Regions from separate parts of the Homo sapiens genome. Here region 2 is linked to region 1. The links come from fine-mapping of genetic effects on gene expression. Tissue or cell type: monocytes. Region 1 holds a variant in brackets; the other region holds the start of a gene. All regions are shown on one strand. Distances are from middle to middle.

The links. PIP is the estimated chance that this variant, and not a neighbour inherited with it, causes the effect.
Region 2: it holds the start of CUX1, and the variant in region 1 is fine-mapped to the expression of CUX1 in monocytes (Quach 2016, PIP 0.91).

The regions. Positions count from the first base shown.
Region 1 is chr7:101,713,229-101,721,330 of GRCh38, forward strand. No RefSeq gene overlaps it. Among named protein-coding and RNA genes, the nearest start is that of MYL10, 88 kb to the left of the region's middle. The variant G/C (reference allele first, on the strand shown) is at 5,023.
Region 2 is chr7:101,813,224-101,821,325 of GRCh38, forward strand. CUX1 (cut like homeobox 1) reads left to right here and starts at 4,403. Exons shown (of 24, transcript NM_181552.4): 1 at 4,403-4,446. The coding sequence starts at 4,417. RefSeq lists silencers at 839-1,248, 2,168-2,557, 2,598-2,827, 3,413-3,572, 3,683-4,002 and 3 more and enhancers at 2,659-3,587, 7,863-8,102.

The DNA of each region.
Region 1 (8,102 bases):
CCATGTTGGCCAGGCTGGTCTTGAACTCCTTTCCTCAAGTAATCCACCCACCTTGGCCTCCCAAACTGCTGGATTTACAGGTGTGAGCCACCACACCCAGCCTCATATATATATATTTTTTTAATTATTATTTTTTAGAGACAGGGTCTCATGCTGTCATCCAGGCTGGAGTGCAGTGGTACAATCATAGCTCACTTTAGCCTCCAACTCCTGGGCTCAAGTGATCCCCCAACCTCGGCCTCCCAAAGTGCTGGGATTACAGGCACAAGCCACTACACCCGGCCTGATTTAGGATTTTTAAAGATTACTCTGGAAAGCAAAAAGGTTACTCTGGCTGCCAGAGGGAGGCTGATCCATGGGGGATGAGTTAGGAGGCTCTAAGATCTGTATAGGAGAGAGATGATGGTGGCCCAGACCAGAAAGGCGGTGACAGAGGAGGAGTTGAACACATTGAAACTGGCACCCCGTTGAGCTAAGGTTTGGGGTAAGCAGTGCCCTGGCCACCTAGCTCCTCAGCAGAGCAACTGCCCTTTCATTTATAATTATTATTATTATTGAGATGGAGTCTTGCTCTGTCACCCAGGCTGGAGTCCAGTGGTGCAATCTCAGCTCACTGCAACCTCCACCTCCTGGGTTCAAGCGATTCTCCTGCTAAAGCCTCCCAAGTAGCTGAGATTACAGGTGCCCACCACCACACCTGGCTAATTTTATACTTTCGGTAGAGACAGGGTTTCACCATGTTGGCCAGGCTGGTCCTGAACTCCTGGCCTCAAGTGATCTACCCACCTCTGCTTCCCACAGTGCTGGGATAACAGGCATGAGCCACTGTTCCTGGCCAGCAACTGCCCTTTCAAATCCAGCCAGTGCCTACTTGTTAACACCTATCGCATGCCAGTCCCCCAGCCCAGCATCATCATGGCCACAGGCTCCCCTCCTGCAGTCACCCATATGCCTGAACATGTCACATCCTACAGTCACCCTGTAAGCCACATGCTCCCGGAGTCCCTAATACTGATGGCAGAACTAAAGCTCAGAGAGGAGTAGACACTCAGCCAACATCACACAGCTTGTGGAACCCAGGACCGCCTGTCTCGCTGCCCCAGGCTGGTTCCCCAGTCAGGACCCACCACTTCCTCTGAGCCTGGAGGATGAGGGGAGGTGTTGGCAGAAAGCCACCCTAGTGCTCCGAGCAAACAAGAGCAGGATTGATCTCCAGAGCCAAGCTGAGCCCACGCAGCCGAAGATGGCAGCACTGTCATCTCCAGGGTGCCTGGGCCTCAGCCCAGAGACATAGTTCTACCTGCCCAGCCTGATCCCTGAATTCCTAGACATCCCAGCCCAGGAAAGCCAAGTTCCCAGGAAAGCAATTCTTACTAAGGTGTGAATGGCTGATAGCCAGTCCTTTCCTGAAAGGGAGTGACAGCATGGGGACACTGAGTTCCAGAAGCAAAAGAAAGGGGAAGGTACTAAAAATAAAATCTTTGGCCAGGTGTGGTGGCTCACGCCTGTAATCCCAGCACCTTGGGAGGCTGAGGCGGGCGGATCACTTGAGGTCAAGAGTTTGAGACCAGCCTGGCCAATATGGTGAAACCCCGTTTCTACTACAAATACAAAAATTAGCTAGGTGTGTTGGCAGGCGCCTGTAATCTCAGCTACTCAGGAGGCTGAGGTAGGAGAATCGTTTGAACCTGGGGGGCGGAGGCTGCAGTGAGCCAAGATCACGCCACTGCACTCCAGCCTAGGAGACAGAATGAGACTCCGTCTCAAAAAAAAAAAAAAAAAACTTAGCCCCTTTTCTATTTTACATCCTCTTCACAGCTGGAGCTCCTTGGGGCTCAGTTATTAGCTGCAAACTCCTCCACTTAACTCCTCAAATCAGCAACAGATGGAGGAACTCAACTTTCAGCCCAGCCCCACCTAATGCTGGAGTCCTGTCAACAGTGGACAATTGTCCCCTCCTGGCTTGAACACCTCCAATGACCAACCCTTATAATGTTCATTAAAAAACCTAGTGTTATTTAACAACATTGCTATTAGAAAGTCCCTTTGCATGTGTGAGCAACAAAGCAGTAGGTATAAAGCAAACACAGCTGGAACTATTGGTTTCCCTTTTACAGATGGGGAAACTGAGGCACCAGGAGGTGAAGGCATTGCCCGAGGTCACCCATGAAAGAATGGAGCTGGCCAGGCACAGTGGCTCATGCCTGTAATCCCAGCACTTTGGGATGCCGAGGCAGGCGGATCACAAGGTTAGGAGATCAAGACCATCCTGGCCAACATGGTGAAAATACAAAAAAAAAAAAAAAAAAAAACTAAAATACAAAAAAAATACAAAATTACTAAAAATACAAAACAAAAAATAGCTGGGTGTGGTGGTGCTTGCCTGTAATCCCAGCTACTTGGGAGGCTGAGGCACAAGAATCGCTTGAACCCAGGAGGTGGAGGTTGCAGTGGGCCGAGATTATGCCACTGCACTACAGCCTGGCGACACAGCAAGACTCCGTCTCAAAAAAAGAATGAAGCTGGGATGTAAACCAAGGCAGGGATCCTGGCTCCTGAAACCTCTCCAGTGAGTGATCTGAAGGCCCCGGACCCTGGCCTGCTGACTACATCATTAGCTACTCCCCAAGTAAAGTGTGGTCTCCCAAAGGCCACTTCCAATGCCCTGCCATGTGCCCCAGGAGGAAGCGGGGTCTTCCTGACCCAACTTTGAACATGCACTTGGAGCCGGGCGCGGTGGCTCACGCCTGTAATCCCAGCACTTTGGGAGGCCGAGGCGGGTGGATCACAAGGTCAGGAGATCGAGACCATCCTGGCTAACATGGTGAAACCCCGGCTCTACTAAAAATACAAAAAATTAGCTGGGCCTGGTGGCGGGCGCCTGTAGTCCCAGCTACTCGGGAGGCTGAGGCAGGAGAATGGCACGAACCCGGGAGGCGGAGCTTGCAGTGAGCCGAGATCGTGCCGCTTGCATTCCAGCCTGGGCGACAGAGCCAAACTCCATCTCAAAAAAAAAAAAAAACAAAAAAAAAAACGAACATGCACTTGGAGTCCCCAGTCAAGACAGCCTGGAAGAAATGAGGGCAACATGGGCGACTCAGTGGACCCCAAATGCATGCCACCATGGCTTCCCCTGATCCACACATCTTCTCTTGTCCCCTCCCTTCCACCCACTCACATGCTGGGCTTTCTCAGCATCCCTGGCAGGGACCTCTGTCTCGGATCACAAAGATGAATAAGAGAAGGAGGCTGTTGGCCTGGCACAGTGGCTCACAGCTGTAATCCCAACACTCTGGGAGGCTGAGGTGGGCAGATCACCTGAGGTCAGGGGTTCGAGACCAGCCTGGCCAACATGTGAAACCCCATCTCTACTAAAAATACAAAAATTAGCTAGGTGTGGTGGTGCACACCTGTAGTCCCAGCTACTCGGGAGCCTGAAGCAGGAGAATCTCTTGAACCCAGGAGGCATAGGCTGCGGTGAGGCAAGATCGCATGACTGCACTCCAACCTGGGCAACATAGCAAGACCTCATCTATATGTAAATAAAATATGCATAATAATAATTTTTTTTTTGAGATGGATTCTCACTCTGTTGCCCGGGCAAGAGTGTAGTGGCATGATTTTAGCTCACTGCAACCTCTGCCTCCCAGGTTCAAGTGATTCTTCTGCCTCAGCCTCCCGAGTAGCTGGGATCACAGGCATGCGCCACCATGCCTGGCTAACTTTTGTATTTTTAGTAGAGACGGGGCTTCACCATGTTGGCCAGGCTGGTCTCGAACTCCTGACCTCAGGTGATCTGCCCGCCTCAGCCTCCCAGAGTGCTGGGATTACAGGTGTGAGCCACCATGCCAGCCTAATAATAATTTTTAAAAGACAAGGCCGGCTGGGCGCAGTGGCTCATGCTTGTAATCCCAGCACTTTGGGAGGCTGAGGTGGGCAGATCACCTGAGGTCAGGAGTTTGAGACCCACCTGGCTACCATGAGGAAGCCCTGTCTCTACTAAAAATACAAAAAATTAACCGGGCGTGGTGGCACACGCCTGTAATCTCAGCTACTCAGGAGGCTGAGGCAGGAGAGTTGCTTGAATCCAGGAAGCAGAAGTTGCAGTGAGCTGAGATGGCGCCACTGCACTCCAGCCTGGGTAACAGAGCAAGACTCTGTCTCAAAAAAAAAAAAAAAAAAAAAAAAGACAAGGTCTCATCCTTTCCTGGTTGGGTCTTGAGAAATCACCTCTCTGAGCCACACAAGATTCCCTCCAAAAACAGTCCCACATCTAGAGGGCACAGAGCCGTCTCTGCCCTTGCACCCCTTCCACAGTGATTGTGGACTCTGGGATGAAGGGACAGCTGCACCCATGCCCCCTTCTGCCTGTTCTCACATCCTTCCAATCCTAGACCACCCCTCACCCTGTTCTCTTGGGAACCCCAGCTGCCCTCAGCCCCAGACCCCCCGAACCATACTCCCACTGGGACCTGGGCTGCCTTAATCCGAGCCCCCTCCCTCCCTGCAAAAGGCTGCGAACGCTTTTGAGGGCTGGAACATCTGGCTAATGGTGGGGAAAGTGCTGAGACGACAGGTTATTTCAACACTGTCATCATCTGTTGGGTATTTCAACACTCAGTGCTTGTGCAAGAGACTTAATGGGACCTGTCATAAACTCACGCTGTCTCAAAGCTCGGGCACGTCGCGGCGGGGCTGATGGGGAGTTGTCAGGGTTTAGCAATAGGCCCTGTCTTGGGGCCCGTAGCCTCCTTAAGGGTTATTTGTCTCCACTGTGGAAGGCTCAGAGAGAAATCTCAAGATGTCAGAGAAAATCCCGAGCAATTACCTCCCGGGGTAATTAGATGGTGGCACAGATAGCCTGTCTTCCTGCCTTCCCTCCTGCCCGGCAGAGGGAGGGAGAGAGGGGGACCAGCCGGTCCAGCCCCCTGCGCCAGCCCCGTGGGGGAAAGAGGCCGCAGATGACCTCATGGAAGCAACGGTGGTGAATCATGGCCCAGACCACATTCACATTTCCCCGGG[G/C]GTGGGCAAGCGTGTTGATCACCGGAGGGGCAGCTTCAACACCCAGAGAGATGGGGGGCAGGTCGGGGAGTAGGGGTGCTCCAGGATGTTTGATTCGGTTCAGCCCTGATCCAAGACTTTGTCTGAACTCAATCGCCTCTCTAAAAGGCTACACAGGGTGGAGGGCGGGGTAGCGCCTCCCGAAACCAGGAGGCGAGGTCCCCGGGAGGGAGGTCGCCGACCACACTTGTGAGGGCTGTGCAGAGTTCCCCACCACTGGCTCTCCCGGGGCAAGTAAGAGGCCCTGCCCCATGCCGGCAACACCGGAAATGAACTAAACTGGGCAGAGCAGAGACTCTAGGGCCTCAGACAGCCCCACTGCCCGGGAAGAGGGGCAATGGCTCAGCTACAGAGGCCTCTTGGTATGGGGATTCATAGGAGGGCCCTGGGGAGGCCTGAGGGATGAGTGATCAGACTCCCTCAAAGAAAACCAGAGCCCCAGCTGAGAACCAGCTCGGTGCCCATCCACCCTCCCCGTTCCACCCCAACACGCTTATCCCCAGAGTGTTCCGGAGAGGTGGTTCCAACTAGGGGTCTGGTGGGAGTTCATGAGGATGGGAGTTCATGAGGAAAGAGAGCACAGGATCCCCAGCCCTGGATGGGACAGGCGGGGAGGTGCCGGGAAGAACACCCAGGGAGAAGGAAGAACATGGAGAACGCGGAGAACGCATCGGGTACGCCAGCAGGACTGTGTGCCTGGAAACCAGAATGCAGGCCATTAAGACACGGACCGGGCAGGCCTGGGCAGGGCAGCCCACGAGTGCAGATCCCTTGGGGCACTGGGGAGCCACAGAAGGTCTTTGATCCCTGCAGTTACACATATACCAAGGGACTTTGAGCCCCTTCTCAGGATCGGTCTGGCAGCAGCTAGGGAAGAGTTCTAGGGGTGGGTAGGAGGAGGTGGGAGGTGCAAGAAGTCGGAGAATAACCTAAGTGAGGACAACCGCCAGGATGAGAAGGCGGAGGGGGCATGGGACTAAGGACGCTGGGAAGTAGACACCCCAGGACTGGGGCCCGAGCTGGGAGGAGCTGGACGAGGAGGGGCCCTTTCTCAGAACCAGTCTACAGAGGTGAGAGGGAGGACAGATGGGGAGGGGCTTGCTTGGACTTTGGGATCTTCCTAGAAATCGGCCACACAGGACCCAGATGGTCTCTGTGTCCCTCTGTCATGGGGACAACGATCCTCCGCTTCAATCGGACCCTTAGAGTCACTCAGACATTCTCCCAGGGCACACATCAACCAAGAATATGGTTTTTTGTTTTGGTTTGGTTTGGTTTTGTGGCTTGTTTGGGTTTTTTTTCCAGACAAAGTCTCACTCTGTCACCCAGGCTGGAGTGCAGTGGCAAAATCATAGCTCACTGCAGTCTCAAGCCCCTGGCCTCCAGTGATCCTCCCACCTCAGTCTCCCAAGTAGCCAGGACCACACAGGCGTGCGCCACCATAACTGGCTTTATTTATTTATTTTCAATTTTTTTTTTCTTGAGACAGAGGCTCGCTCTGTCACCCAGGCCGGAGTGCAGTGGCACAATCTTGGCTCACTGCAACCTTCACCTCCCGAGTTCAAGTGATTCTCCTGCCTTAGCCTCCCAAGTAGCTGGGATTACAGGCATGCGCCACCACACCCGGCTAATTTTTTTGTATTTTTTAGTAGAGATGGGGTTTCACCATGTTGGCCAGGCTGATCTCGAACTCCTGACCTCAGGTCAGGTGATCTACCCACCTCGGCCTTCCAAAGTGCTGGGATTACAGGCGTGAACCAACGCGCCCGGCCATTTTTTTCTTTCATTATTTGTAGAGACACTATGTTGCCCACATTGGTCTTGAACTTCTGGAATCAAGTGATTGTCCTGCCTCAGCCTCCCAAAGTGCTGGGATTACAGGTGTGAACCACCGCGCCCGGCCCAAGCCCCTGCCTTTATATGATCACATCACCACCTCCAAACAGAGGAGAAGCTGCCAGCCCTGCCATCTTCAGACAGACAAGGTTGGGGACGGAATGGTTTCCTCTGACTCGCAGCTGGGGCTCACCTGATGCTCTCTCCTGTCCTGTGTGGCAGGCACTGTGATCATCCCATTTTACAGATGAGAAGACTTGCTGCTCACAGGTGCAGAGCCCAAGGCAGCCATCCCTGTGATCTCTCTCCTGCCTGGGGCACCTCAAGTGTCAGGACCGGCCCTCCTTTACTTTCTGGGCAGGAAACCTCATTGGAGCTCCCCTGCGTGAGGTGGGAGGGATCCAGCCCCTGCCCCTCACCAACACTCCAGTGTGGCTTCCTGTCTGCCACCTGCCTCCCCTCCCATGCCAAAGACCAACGTTGCCTGGGTATAGGGGCCCATGGTGAAGCAACCATGAAATAGAAAGGGGCCCTGGGATGGGAGTCGGGAGACGGATGCTGTGGCAGCCCCAGCCCTGACCCTAACATATTCTGCCATCAGGAGGAAGTTATCTATCAATTCCAGGCTTCCAATTCCTGCCCTGCAGAAAGAGGCAGTGGCCTACAGTTTCTAGTCAAGAGATGACATTGTGGCGTGGTGGAGAAAGGCCCCCCAAGCACAGCCAGCCACCAGGTTGGGGTTTTAGTCCTGCCTCTGAAGTGGACAACCTCGCTTCCCCAGGCCTTGTCTTCTCTTTTTTTTTTTTTTTTTTTTTGAGACAATCTCGCTCTGTCACCCAGGCTGGAATGCAATGGTACAATCTCAGCTCACTGCAACCTCCGCCTCCTGAGTTCAAGTGATTCTGCTGCCTCAGCCTCCCGAGTAGCTGGGATTACAGGTGCGTGCCACCACGCCTGGCTAATTTTTGTATTTTTGGTAGAGACGGGGTTTCACCATGTTGGCCAGACTGGTCTTGAACTCCTGACCTCAGGTGATCCACCTGCCTCAGCCTCCCAAAGTGCTGGGATTACAGGCGTGAGCCACCGTGCCTGGCCTTCTCATCTTTAACTGGGGTACAATGGCATCTCTCTCAGACACAGCCCAGTGCAGGTGCCACGAGAGTGACGTATGATGTTCTCAGTGTGACAGGCAATGTCCCCATCCT
Region 2 (8,102 bases), 100 kb after region 1:
AGGTGCCAGTGGAAATCTAGGTCCTAAAACCTATAAAATATTTTGTAAATATTTTATGCAGCGCACATCTTTGTAGATCCACTCTGCCAGTGGGTACTCCTGGGTTTTTACAATGGTGGGGCTAAAAATCAATCTGAAACAATACAAAAGAAACAAAATAGTCTTTGGAAATAAATACAATTTGCTTTTATTCTGTGTCTATACTTGCTCAAGAAAAATAAAGTGCACTTTAAAAAGTTTTTTTTAGGTCTCTGCTGTTTCACTCAACGCAGATAACTTTTGATCAGTGGTTTATTTTGAATGAATTTCTTTTTACAAAGTAACGTTTTATGGTGCTGGTGAAAGTTATTCTAAACTCCTCCCTTCCCACCACCCCCTGCAGAGAGCAACAAGGTTTATGTAACCCAAAACTTTGGTGGGAGAACTCAACTGTATTTAAATAGAGGTTAACCTCTGGGCCATCCAATATAGTGTGTCTGTACTAAGTCAGGTTAGCATGTAAATAATATAAATATAACCAGAAATGTAACAACGGTATTTAATAGTCATCAGATTTATTTCTAAAATATTGCCATGGATTCAGAATACTGAATTCCAACCAGATGTATTTCGGGAGTATTACACAGGTCATATATATTTCACTTTTTTGGTTCAAACCCAGGGGATCTACACGATAATTAGATTGAGAACATCTGCATCAAATCCAAACCATTTCCCTGATCCTTCCTTGAGCCTTCCCCATGGGAGGGATTTCTTTTTTTTTTTAAGCCCCTGCACATTTTGTCTAGCCACCTTTAGCGCAATTCCTAGGTCTCGCCTGCCTGCCACCGCAGAAATAGACATGCCAGGGGAAGGCGGAAGCACCCCCCCCCCCACCCCCGCCGCCTCCCCGAGTGTGCAGGCATCCTTAGAAGTCGCATTTCCCCGGGACAGGAATGTCCCTCGGTGGCAATGCCGCTTCCCGCCAGAAGCCTGACTCCGGGACAGGGCGTGGCAGGCGCGGGGGCCTGGGCGCGCCGGTGGGCACGTGCGCGGGGACCCGAGGACCCGAGGACCCGAGTGTCGGGGCGCCGCTGCCCTCTACCGGGCGGCGCGGTCGGAGCTACAGCGCGGCGGCCGGCCGACTGAGCGCGCGGGCCGGGGCGCCCCACACGGAGGCAGCCCTTGGCCACCCGAGATCCACAGTGCCCTGCTGTGCGCGGCGTCACCGCATCTAGGGTGGAGGCTCGCAACGTGCCCCCCGACGCCAGCGCGCTCCCACCCACCGGCGAGTCAAGGTTGCGTTGGGGAGACAGTGAACCCCGTTCCCGACATCAGGGGCCTCCCCTTGGGGAAACTGAGGCCCCTGGCCAGCTGCGCAAGACCTGGGGACACGCGTGTTCTCTAAATCTTGGGACTTTCATTTCCAGCCTCTTCCTCCAAAAATGCCGAATTCACTGCGCCAACCCTCGAACTCACTTGAAAAGCAATTGTTTTCCACTTGCGCGTTTTATTTTGTATCCTATGCAGATTCTATTTACATATGCATTTTGAGATTAAGGAATTTGGGGACTTGTTTTAACTAATTACTCGTTCAGTGAAGTACGGGAGAGTCAAAGAACAGTATTCCTACTGGAAACTCCAAGTCACACGTGTGTATAATCAATGAAAGATGACGATCATAAAACGTGTGCTTTCGCCAGCTTTCCGCGAGGAGAGAAATCAAAAGAGAATTTATTTTTTGGTTTGCATTTTAGCATTTCTGTAAACTTGGGACCACGCTTTCCGTTTTCAGTGAGTGCACCCACACTTTCCAACTTTCTGCGCCCAAAGTTGCAACAAACCAAGGTGTCTGAACCACAGGAAGTTTCTTGGGCTGTTCCGCTGAAGCGGCGCGGGGGGACACAGAACTGGGCTCCCAGACTTTTCCTGTCGTGGCCTAAACTGGAACGGCTTGGGCGAATGGGGGCTGCCGGGACCCCCAGCGCTACCGCCGTTGGGGTGCGTTCGGGTGCGACGCTGGCACCGCCGCTGTCCGGGTGTGGGGCATCCACGCGCGCGGCCCCCTGAGAGGGTCAGGGCTGTTTCCCCCTCAACTCCACTCCTCCAAACATGCCACGCTGTTCCTGGTCGTGTCGGTGTCCCGGTCCTCGCTGGGCGCAGAGGGATCAGAGTGTTGCCGTCCACCGTCGGGGCGCCTCCCACGCACGCTGCTGCGGGGGGCCTGGGCCACGCAGGGGTCGGGTGTGGGGGGTCCCGGGCAGGTGGTAGCGGCGTCTCCGCGCTCTGTACACTAACCACTACAGGGGCGCTCCGACGTTCCCCCCAACCGGAGTCTTGAAGGCGCTGCGCTCGGCCACCGCGGGCGATCGCGATCCCAGCGGGAGACCCCCCCCACCCCCGCAGCCCTCCCCAGGTGCGCGGTGCCGGGGGACCCCGGGCGCTGCCCTCCAGCGCCCCCTCGGGGCCGGGTCTGTGGCCGGCGCGACCGCGGACTTTGGGGGGGGTTGTCCCGAGGGGCGGGGGTCGCCGGTCGGCCCGCGGAGGGGAGGGGGAGGGCGGCGGTGGGGGGGTTGGGGGAGCAGGGGCCGGGGCCGCGCGCGCGAGGCCGGGCCGCGGCCGCCGCGCCCTGGGGCTGCGACTCCGGCTCCGGCTCGGGCTCGCCATGGCTGCGGCGGTGCCGTGAGGAGGAGTCCGCGTCCTCGGTGGCGGCGGCGGCGGCCGGCTCCAGGCCGGGTTTTGGCGCCGCCCGCCTGCTGCCTCCTGGCGGCTCCTGAACTCCAGCCCCCTCTCTATCAGCCGCTCACTCCGTCTCAATATGTCTCAAGATGGCGGCCAATGTGGGATCGATGTTTCAATATTGGAAGCGCTTTGATTTACAGCAGCTGCAGGTCAGGCTCCTCCGCGCTCGGCCTCGCGCCCGGGGGTGGGGGCTGCGGGCGGTCGCGGCCTCCGCCGGGGGCCCCGGGCTGGCCCAGCCGCCGGGGGGCCCGCGGCGGCGGGGAGGAGGGGGGTGCCGGGCACCGCGGGGCCGAGTCGGGGCCGAGTCCCTCCCGCTCCCCGGCCCCCATTGATCACTCGCTTGATCGGAAATTGATCCTCTTTGTTCAATTCATCGATCAGCCCAAGATGGCGCCGGGAGCCGCCGCCGCCACCACTGCCCCCGGTGTCTGCCCCCACCCCGGGCGCCCCCCCGGGCCCCGCGCCGCCGCCGCCGCCAGCGCCGCCGCCGCCGTTGCCGCCGCGGGACCGGGGAGGGGGCGGCCCCGGCGGCCCGCGGGGTGCGCGCGCGAGCGGGGAGCGGGGAGCGGGCGGCGGGGGGCGGGCGGCGGCGGGCGCCGGGAGGGGGCCGCGGCCCGGCGGTGGCGCCCGCCCGCCCGCTCGCCCCGCGCCCCCGGCCCGCCGTATTCCCGGGGAAAGTTTGTGGGGAGTTGCTGCGGGGGGTGAAGCGCCTGCCTCTCCAGGAGGAGCCGCCGCCACTGCCGCCGGCGCGGCGGAGCTGGGGCTGGTGGCGCTGTGGTGCCGCCGGCTCGGGGGAGGGTCAGAGCGGCCACCGGCGGCGGCGGCGGCGGCGCGGCCCGGCTCCGGCCAGGCGGGCGGGTGGCCGGGCAGGCGCCCGCGCTCGCTACCCCCGGCCGGCCCCGGCCGCCGCCCCCGGCTGTCACCGGCCCGGGCCGCGCCGCCGCTCCGGCACCCCGCGTGTGGCTCCCGGCGCGGACCCCCGGGTTTGTTTACGTCCCGGGGAGCGCCCCGGGGCCACCCGCGCACCTCGCGGCCGCCGCGCTCTTTTGTGTGCCTGTGTCGGTGACGCGGACCTGTTCCTCCGTGGCGGACCCCCGCGGGGGCTCTTTGGGGAAACTTGGCGAGGGGCGGCGGGGGTGCCCCGCGCGCAGTGTCGCTGGGTCCCGGTGTCCCGGACCGCCGGGTGCGGGCGCGGGAGGAGGAGGCTGCAACTTTCCCCTAGGCAGGCCCCAAGCTGTTCCCCCGGGTGCCCGGGCAGTGTACGCTGCCTCCCCGCCGCCGGTCCGAGCCGCGATCGCCGCGCGCCTGGGGGCTCCGGCGGCCCCCGGTGACCTGCGGCGCCGGGTCCCTTCCTTGCGTCCCCTCGGGGCTTCTGCCCTCTCTGCAGGGCCCGCCATGGAGCGCGCGGCGGGTGCGCTCGGAGATGCCTTCTCGGGCCGGGTTCTCGAAAGCAGAGCCCCGGGGGCCCGTTGGGACCGTGGCATGCCGGGCGGTGGTCCGCGCGCGGAGTCCCCGGCGCCGCGGGGGGACCGTGCCGGGGCTCCCCGGCCCGCGCCCGAGTCGCCGCCGTGCCCAAGGGGCGAGTGCCTGCCTGCCACCCCCCGCCCGGAGGAGCGGCGCACCCTTAGGGTCCGCCCCGCACGTGCCAGCTCGGCGCCCGCGGCGCCGGGACAGCCCCGGGACTCTGCCAGGTGGATGTTGTGCGTAGCCGGAGCCAGGTTGAAGGTGAGCGGCGTGTGGGCCAGAAGTCCCGAGGTTGCAGGCGCGGAGGGAACCGGGGATGTCGGGGGGTGCCCGGGTCCCGCGGCTTAGAATGCTCTAGGGCGGCCTGGTGCTCTGGGAGGGGATAGGAGGGTTCCTCAGGGCCCCTGGGGAACTGCAGCTACTCCCAACTGCTAAGGTGTGCGTGAAGATAAACTTGGCTGAACTTTCCTAACCTGGAGGACTGGTGACAGTGACCTACCGCAATACCTTTGGGAGCAAAGCTCGAGATGCAGGCTTGTATCAAACGAAGCGGGTTGGATTAAAACATATTTAAATGGAATCTGACAACTTTAATTGTATATGCTTGTTTTCTGCTCTTGCCTACTAAGAACGATAAAGCCGAGTCATAGTCGTTATGAAATTTCCTGAAATTTCTCGCTTAACTAGGAAGAAGACTATGCGAAATATGTATTTCCGATAAGATTAAAACTTAAAGGAGTTTAAGTATTTATTGACTAAAATAGATTACTCCAAAGTGTCTATTGTGTAAATTAGATTCCTGGATGTAATGAACACAGCCGAATGGCATTTTTGATAAATTGGTCTACCCTGTTTTAGTAAAAATAGCTCCCTTTTACCATAATTTAATTCCTGTGCTTACTGTAAAACCCGTTGTGGAGTTTTAAGGACAAACATTATTATTATTTTTCTCTCTTGTCTTCCTAAATGTGACATCCTAGCTTAATATCAATGAAGTGTCTTTTTTAAAGCATCCTGGCAAAATTGCCTGGAAAATGGATTTGGTTTCTAGAGTTACTAGATTTTAAGAACTCTAAACCTTCCTGTCCCCCATATTAGCTACTTCTTCAGGGGATCAGGGCTCCAGGGTTCCATCGAAAGTTTCCATGTCAGTTTACTTGCACTTTATGTGGATATTAAGAAGAAATCAAAACCAAACCCCAAAACAAAGTCCCTTATTTGAACTTCATTCCTCTTTACTCCTTTGCTTTTGGTGGTTGCTAACGATTTGGCCTTAGATGATTTCCTATGGGTTTGCAAACTTTAGTCGAATACGGAATGTCAAAGTTCAAGTCTCAGGCCAATCTGGTTCTTTCTCTGGGCGGTGAGGAGGCCTTTGGAGTTGGTGTCTGGTTAATTCCCACCGATAGTCAGTGAGTCAATAGAACGAGTTTGGGAGAGAATTCATTAGTTCCAGATTTTTCTCATTTTTCCAGACCTCTTTATACTGAGATTGGGTTGCCACCTGGGGGTAAAGAGGCTGATCGGTCTTTGCAGAGAGAAATCCAGGTTGGAGACGTCAGCGGGTCCAGGTGAGGTTGGGCCGTTCCGCAGTTCTGCAACCCTGGCTCACTGGGTTCTTGTCCCTCGGCTTCCTGGGTCTTGAAGCTGCTGCCTTGGCACAGGAGTGTGTGCTCAGGAAGAGAATTTCTGAAGATTGTGTTTTATTCCGTTTCCTTTTTAGTCCCAAAGGCTTGTGGTATGGAAGTTTCAGTGCTTTGGTATTGCTAAGACTAGTTGGACAAGTTTTTTATCCTATCTCAGACTTGTAAAAACCAGGTTTTCTTTTCTTTTTAAATAAGAAAAGCACTGTTGTATAAATTTGTCTTTTAAATACATATTTGAAAGGAGGACACTTTCTAAGACAAAGCTCATGGCACTCTGTATGTTAGTGGAGCTTTGAACTCTTTGGGACGGGGCCCGCCAATGACTGCCTTCCCTTTGGGACATTATTCCCACATGGTGACCAGCCTTCCCCTTTAAGCAGCTTCTGCAAAAGTAAACTTGAAAAGTTGCCTTCTTTTTCAGAATCAAAAAACAATTTCAGTTTTGCTGAAAGTCCATTTTCTGATGGCTTTTTTTCCCCCTGTTGTGGAAGTGTGTATGTTACTGGCTGTCCAGTACTGTTTGCCATAATAAGTATATTATTTTAATTAAAATGTCCCATCTAGTACCCTTTATAAAAGAGCAGTTCAAGAAATTACACCACTGCTGCTCCTGCTTTTGTTTTCTTGGTTCTTTTAATATGGGTGTCTTTGAGGTTGGATGTGGGAAGGGGTCATTGGCAGTTGATTTAAGTTTTTTCCTATGTGAAACTCTTTTTTTCCTTAAAGGTGCAAGTGGTGAGTTAATGCAACAACTCCTGGTACAGTTGAGTCCACAGAGAGCCCTTTGACTACATCCTCGGCTTCGTGTATCTTCTGTCGGTAGTTAGCCAACCTAAGAAAGCTGAAAGGGCCAAATAGTCCAATACCTTCAGGAATGATTCTCTCCTAAATCCACTGAGCTAACCTTAAAAATGCAGTCTGGTGAACTGTGCTGAGCCTGAAACCTTTAATGGCTATTTAAAAAGTCTCCTGTTTTTGTACAATTAAGACAAACCCATCAGGGTTTATATGGGAGCTGTGAAGGAACAGTAGTTTGTGCTCTCTGATTCCCTTCTGGGTCTACCTGTAGCAGTAAACAATCAAAACCACTCCTGAGGCTGTACTCACTTTCTGTGTCTTAGGAGAGAACACAAGACTAGAAGTAGAAAATCCACATTTGTTTCAGCTCCTCTGTAATGCCCCAGGAACGTCTGTTTTTAGTGAAATGAAGGAAGGACACGTTTGTTAGGGGAAAACTCATACATTTCGTAAGCAGAGAAATTCATCATATGAAGAATCCTACAGAGGTAGGTTAAATTCCTACCCGTGCTTCCATTTCAAATAGTTTACACATTTGTCACATGTAAATTTCACAGACAGGTATATCTGACGAATTGTAACACAAATGGTATGTAAAAGGCAACTCTAACCATTATTCAAATATACAGGATCCAGGATCGTGAGTTATTGTAGAAATTACTTAAGACCTATTTAAAATTATTGAATACATAACTTTAAAAAATGTAATTGCTCTATGAAAAGTGACTTTTATTATAATTGTCAAAGACAGAAATTTGTCTGTCTTGTCCTTTTGTTTTGTCTGAAGCCCCGCGTTATCGCTGCAGAGAGAGAGTTTTGGTTTCCACCGAAATTTCCCTGCCTCCGATTGTTTAAACCAGACCCTTAATCTTATTTTAACATATTTAAAATGTTCACAAAACCCGGAAGAATTGTTTTGTGTAAGTAGCAAGCGAGTGTAGCTTAAACACTCAAGCAATTCTGGTATCTAATTGGAAACAGGTGGAATTCTTGGAATCCCATGTTTGAGTCTTTTTATAGCAAAGCCCAGGGACACTTTTCACTTATAGCCATTCGTTTTGTCGAAGCTATTTGAAGAGGGGCCCCACAGCCTCTCCTTATGTCCCACTGTTGCTTACCTGGACAAAGCAGTCGTGCTGGGCGCTTTAGGAACTGGATACCTGTGAATGCCTGGATGCCGAGAGAAGTGTGTGTGTGTGCCGATAATGGAGTGAAAAAGGAATCTAATGGTATAGTTAGACAAGCAATTTAATATCTGCATTGTTATATGACTTTAGAGCAAAGAATTTGTGAATTCATTTGTGATTTCTGACTTGATGAACCTTGACTGACCAGAGCATGTAGGTACATTTTATTATACCCCAATAATGATATAGAATTCAGAGAGAAGATACTCCCCCCCGCCCCCAAAAAAATTCTACATTTAGAGAATATAAGCTCCACCAGCAACCATAAAAGTATTAACTTGGTGAG